2 separate regions of the Homo sapiens genome follow, and region 1 is linked to region 2. The links come from fine-mapping of genetic effects on gene expression. A gene starts in region 2. The other region holds a variant in brackets. All regions are shown on one strand. Distances are between the middles of the regions. Region 1 overlaps LNCRNA-IUR (lncRNA imatinib upregulated). Region 2 holds the start of ENDOD1 (endonuclease domain containing 1).

The links.
Region 1: its variant is fine-mapped to the expression of ENDOD1 in whole blood (INTERVAL, PIP 0.95).

What each region holds. Positions count from the first base shown.
Region 1 is chr11:95,151,775-95,154,683 of GRCh38, reverse strand. The region is part of intron 1 of LNCRNA-IUR (lncRNA imatinib upregulated); the gene reads right to left. Among named protein-coding and RNA genes, the nearest start is that of LNCRNA-IUR, 2.7 kb to the right of the region's middle. The variant A/G (reference allele first, on the strand shown) is at 1,042.
Region 2 is chr11:95,088,478-95,091,386 of GRCh38, reverse strand. It overlaps ENDOD1 (endonuclease domain containing 1), which reads right to left and starts at 1,541. Exons shown (of 2, transcript NM_015036.3): 1 at 1,160-1,541. The coding sequence starts at 1,459. RefSeq lists a silencer at 1,290-1,719 and enhancers at 1,730-1,789, 1,860-2,139.

The sequences.
Region 1 (2,909 bases), 63 kb before region 2:
GGCCTCTGTTGCCACCTGCAGGAGCATTTGGAGGAGGGTTCCAGGACCCTAGATGCCAGAGAGGGAAGCAATAGGCATGTGAAATCTTGAGTTTCACCAGACAAAATCTCCTCACCTCTCTTGAGTTCATGCTGCAATATTTATGTTATTTATTTATGTTTATTTATTTGAGGCAGAGTCTCACTATGCTAGCCAGACTGGCTTCAAACTGTTGAGCTCAAGCGGTCATTGCCACCCACCCCCTCTGCCCCCACCTTAGCTTCCTGAGTAGCTGGGATTATAGGCACGCATAATCATACCCAGCAAAGCTCCAGTATTTAATCAGTTGAGTGACTTTAGGCAAATCACTCCTTTTAGCCTATTTCCTCATCTCTAGAAGAATATTTGATATCCATAAATTTGCTTTGATAGTGATTGTAAATGGGTCATTCATTTATGTATTCACGAAGCAAACAGCATGTTGGATAAAAAGACATGAAAATATAAGAACCTGAGAGAAAAATCACAATATTACAGGGGCATCAGTCAAACCCACAGGAAATTGTCAGTTTGTTTTGATAGACCTATAAACAAAGTGTCACATGATCTAAGTCATGCCTCTTGTCTGGTGCAAGCAGGGAAAGCTTCACAACAGAGGTGACATATTAATTGGACTTGGAAAACCACATAGGAGTTCACCAGGGTTTGGAAGAACACATAGGAGTTCATAAGGCAGAGAGGAAGGGAAAGGACTTTCCAGAAAGGGGAAGCAATAAGCCAAAATGTTTTGACCTGCAGGTTGTTCCCAAGGAGTGACTGAACTCTTGTATCCTGCAGCAAGCAGGCTTGGTAGGAGAGAAACGTTAAGGAGAGAGGAATGTTGCCAATGTCAAGGGAAGGAGTGGTGAGGCTTGGCCCTGGCAGGAGTCTAGTAGGGGGATGAAGAAGAGGAGCTATCAGGCTGCAAAAAGAACATTGAATCAGGATGGGCAGGTCTGCTTCATGGCCCAGACTCTTCCAACCACTCACTATGGGACCTTGGCTAAGTTAACCACCCTCTCT[A/G]TGCTTCAGTTTCCTCATGTGCAAGTGAAGATAATAACCCCCACCTCGCTGTGTTGTTGCCAGATAACACATGCAAAATCATTAACACAGTGCCTGCCGCAGATGTGCTCAAACAGGTCAGCCACTGGTGTTACCATTAGATATGCAGCTTCAGGGACTTATTTTGTCTCACCAATCCTACTTTCCTCGTCAATAAAGTGAGAACGAGAGTGTCTGCCTTGCATGCATCAGAAACTGTGAAGATACAATCAAGTAATACAAGCTGTACAGAATGAGATAATGAAGCCTACATTTTAAAATATAGCAGGCATCTACCAATCATAACGCAGTTTCACTTTCATTACGACGTTTAACTTTTTCTGACAACAACCTTATGAGGTAGGATTATAATGATGTTTATTTTACATGTGATGAAAGTTGGGTTCCTTCATTTAATAGATGCTCCTTGAGCAGGTTCTGTGAACAAGACAAGACCATGGGAATTGTAGTTGAGAAGAGGAAACAGACTGCAGGTACATGCTGGGGGAACCGGGGCTCAGGGCTTCGCCCTGCTATGTCTCTACTCACTCTCTGATGATCTCTCCAAGGGACTGATGGGGCTTTCAGTCCCATGCCTGTATCATGGCAACCCATATTTCTATCTCCAGCCCAGCCCTCTCCAGACCTGTGTGTCTGCCCAATCAATCTCTCCACTTGTTTTTCTAATGAACACCTCAAACCTAAAATATATAACATTAAGCTGTCTTATCCCTCTACCCCAGCATCTTCCAATCTCAGCCAGCAGCATCTCCGTTTTTCCAGCTGCTTGGAGTCATCCCTGATTCCTGTCTTTTTCTCATACCCAAAAAAACAATCAGACAGAAAATCTTATATATATGTAAATCTTCGCCCCGGTTGGAGTGCAATGGCGCAATCTCGGCTCACTGAAACCTCTGCCTCCTGGGTTCACGCTATTCTCTTGCCTCAGCCTCCCGAGTAGGTGGGATTAAGGGTGCACACCATCACACCCAGCTAATGTTTTGTATTTTTATTGATTGATTGATTGACTGAGACAGAGTCTCGCTCTGTCGCCCAGGCTGGAGTGCCGTGGCGCCATCTCGGCTCACTGCAAGCTCTGCCTCCCAGGTTCACACCATTCTCCTGCCACAGCCTCCCGAGTAGCTGGGACTACGGGCACCTGCCACCACTCCCTGCTAATTTTTTTTTTTTTTTTTTTTTAGTAGAGACGGGGTTTCACCGTGTTAGCCAGGATGGTCTCGATCTCCTGACCTCTTGATCCGCTCACCTTGGCCTCCCAAAGTGCTGGGATTACAGGCGTGAGCCACCGCGCCCGGCCTTTTATCCTACTTTCAAAAAACATACCCAGAGTCTGAGTGTTTCTCCTTACCTCCAGCGCCACTCCATGGCCCGAGCTCTGTTTCACCTGGTTCTCACCTGGATCGCGGCCTCCAATTTGCGCAGTGACCCCTACAGTCTATTCTCCAAACAGCAGCTGGCGTGGTCATTATGAAAAGCAATGTCCACCTGCTGCTCAAAAACCCACGAATGGCTCCCCATTTCTTTCCCATTAAAGCCAAAGTCTAAAACATTTACAAAGCGTTATATGATCAGTTCCTACCTGCTTTCCTTATGTTGGAGGCTGTGAAGCTCCTTAATATATAAACAGTTCTCAGGAGAAGGAATAAAAGCACAGCCACCTCCTCAGCAGAGCCAGTTTACACTCTGCTAGAGACAAGAGGAGCTGGGACCTTCTCCCCTAACCCTTACTGCATATGTGAGAGAAGCCAGACCTGCTGGATCGACTGGAAATGCCCAGTGCCTGAGACGGGGAGGAAAGAGAAGCCGTGGGGAGGAAAAGACTGTAAACC
Region 2 (2,909 bases):
TAGGTGCAGATTGTTTGAGACCTGGCCAAGACCTCAGAGCTAGAAATATCTGAATGAGATTACAACCCACAGGCTCTGAATAAAGCACCTGAAAGCCAGCCTCCTGTCCACTGGTGTGGTCCTGGGCAGCTGTGGCCGTCAGGAAAGGGAGAGCGTTGGGTCAGTTCTTCCCCCAGCAGCCTGGGCAGGGGTGGGAGGCTGGTGAGAGGGCAAAGGGGAGTCTGGCAGGGTGTTCTAGAGAGGAGGCCAACTGAGGAGAGGTATTAAGAGCAGGCCAGCAGGTTCGGAAGACTCTGAGGGCTTCTCAAGTGTTTGGTCACCTTTACCAGACGGGACAGAACACCATGAGAGGTGACACGATTTCCTAGTGGTATGATAATATAGATATGAGGAGTCAGGAAAAACTGGCTTATCTTTCCATCAGTTGGAGGTAGTCAATGTTTCCCTATCATTTTTAACTACCCCATTGCGTTTCTAAAAATCTGTATCTTTATTTCATTGTTCTAATTCAACACAACCGCAGATCGAATTTACTCAACGCCGTGGTAGAGGAAGGATTTTCAGGCTAGGATGAGCTCTGCAGAAGAGAAGCTTTACTTAGTAGAAAAGGCAGTGAATTTCTAGACAGAGACCTGCCCCATCTTACTAACTGGGTAGTCTTCCATATGTCTCTTCACCCCCTGGGTTTATCTCCTCTTCTGTAAAATGGGGATGAAAATGCCCACCTACCCACCTCCAAATGAGTGCTATGGCAATAAGTTGCACGAAGGCCTGTGAGCGCCCAGCCTAGGCTTTCTGCGGATCTGAACGGTCTCCAGGGTCTCTGTATCAAGCTCTTCACCATTCAGGAATGAAACACTGCGGATGTCTGCTCAGAAATGCAGGGAGAACCTCCTCCCACAGGGGACCTCCCGCCCTGCAGCTCATGAAGTGAAGGCTCGCAGATCGCCAGGCTCTTATTGTAGCTCGACAGGGGCGAGGCAGGCTAACTCCGGGGACGCAACAGGGTGGACCTGGAACCCGGGTTTCTTGGCCCAAGGCACCGAAGGCGTAGGGATTGCTGTTCCCGGCCCGCCCCTCGCGGTAGCTGCAACTGGGGGCATGTCCAGCGGCACGGTCTCCGGCGCCCGCAGCCCGGCTCGGGAACCACTTCGCTTACCTGCGGCTCCACCAGCCATCGCTGCTCGGCGCCGCCGGGCGCAGGGCGCGGGGCGCGGAACGCGGAGTACACGGGGATGCGGTCCCGGGTGCTGTAGAGGGTGGCGAAGCGCTCAGCACCCTCCGCGCGCTGACAGATCTTCACGTGGGAATCGGCCGCCAGCCCCGCAGGCGGGGTCCCGGCGTAGAAGAACTTGTCACATTCGCCAAAGCCGGCTTCCTCCTCGCCCACGAGCCGGCCTTCCAGCAGCCCAGCCAGGGCGAAGAGGCTGCCCAGCGCGAGCCAGCGCGCGGTGCCCATGGCGGCCTCTGCGAGCGCGGCGGGGCCGAGCGGCTGGGCTGCCGCGGCGCGAGCTCTGCAGGCTGGGCGGGGAGCGCACTACGCAGCCGAGCAGGGTAGGGAAGGGAAGTCGCAACCTAGGCGCGGCGCTCTGCGGAGCCGGGCGGGGCGGCCCGGGCGGCGGGGGCGGGTCCGCGTCGGGAGGCCGCGCCTCCCTCCCTGAAGATGGCTGCAGAGGCCCAGGGCCGCGCTCCGCGATGCTGACAACGTACCCTGGGCTGCGCCCGGGACTGGAGACGCGGGTCACCTGCCTCCGCGCCGCCTGGTCTCAGCAGTCCGGGGGACGCGCGCTACCAAGAGTGGAGAATCCGAGTGGGGCGGGCCTAGTCCCGGGGCTGGGAAGAGATAGTCGCATGGACTGGGCGCCAAGAAGCCTGCTGATCGCGCGCGCCCCACGGCCGCCCTGGTGATGCAGAGGGGTGGCGTGAGATGCTCGTGGAGCTGCGGCTGGTTCGGAGTGGATGGGCAGAGTTCCCCTCTGAAATTTCATGAAGATGCGTCTCCCACTCTCCACCGAAGTACTCAACGACCAGCACACGCATACAATTTTGATGGAGTTTTTTGTTTTTTGTTATGTTTTTTTAGCTCACCAGAAACTCAGAGAGTAAAGAAATACTGTTAAAGGAAGTTCCTAAACTAGGCAGACAGTATAACCCTGTGTGGTTTTCTTGGTGCAAGTGTTAGAAACAAAACCGATACCAAGCAAGGAAGGAGGCCAGCCAACGTCATTGGTCAACAGGTTGGCCAATTCTTTCCTTCATTTATCCCTCTGAATGCCTAGGTGCCAGCCTGAGATAGGCACTGGATTACCACAGGGGTAAACAAGAGCAGGGCTCCTGCGGTCACAAAGACAGCCTAGTGGGAAAGTTTGTCATTAACCGAGGAAACATGCTATTAAAGGGATAACTAAAAACTGAACACAGATCTGTGAGACCCTGACAGCTACAGGGGTTCAGGATGTAATCCGGGAAGGTTTGCCTGAAGAAGTGGCATCTGAGCTGAGACCTGGAGGATGACATTAACTAGGCAAGGAGGAAAACCATGTGCTAAGTGGTCTCCCACAGAAGGGAACATGATGTATTGGAGGAATTTAAGGAAGGCTAGTGTGGGTAAAGCGCGGAGAACCGCGTGGGGGATGATGGGAAGTGGGGCTAAAGGAGGAGGCAGGGGTCATATTACTCAGGTTATTATAGGCCAGAGGCCTTCAAACACTTTTTGAGAAGGCCCATAATGAGAAAAGTTTGATGAAATAATTCTTATGCTTATGATTGGCATTGCAATTTCATATTTCTGTTCTACTTCACTTTTTTAAAAAAGTGCTGGTGTTGACCCACTAAATTGTTTCTATGAGCCACTAATGGCTCATGACCTGCAGTTTGGAAAAAATATTGTAAATCATGTTGAGGATTTT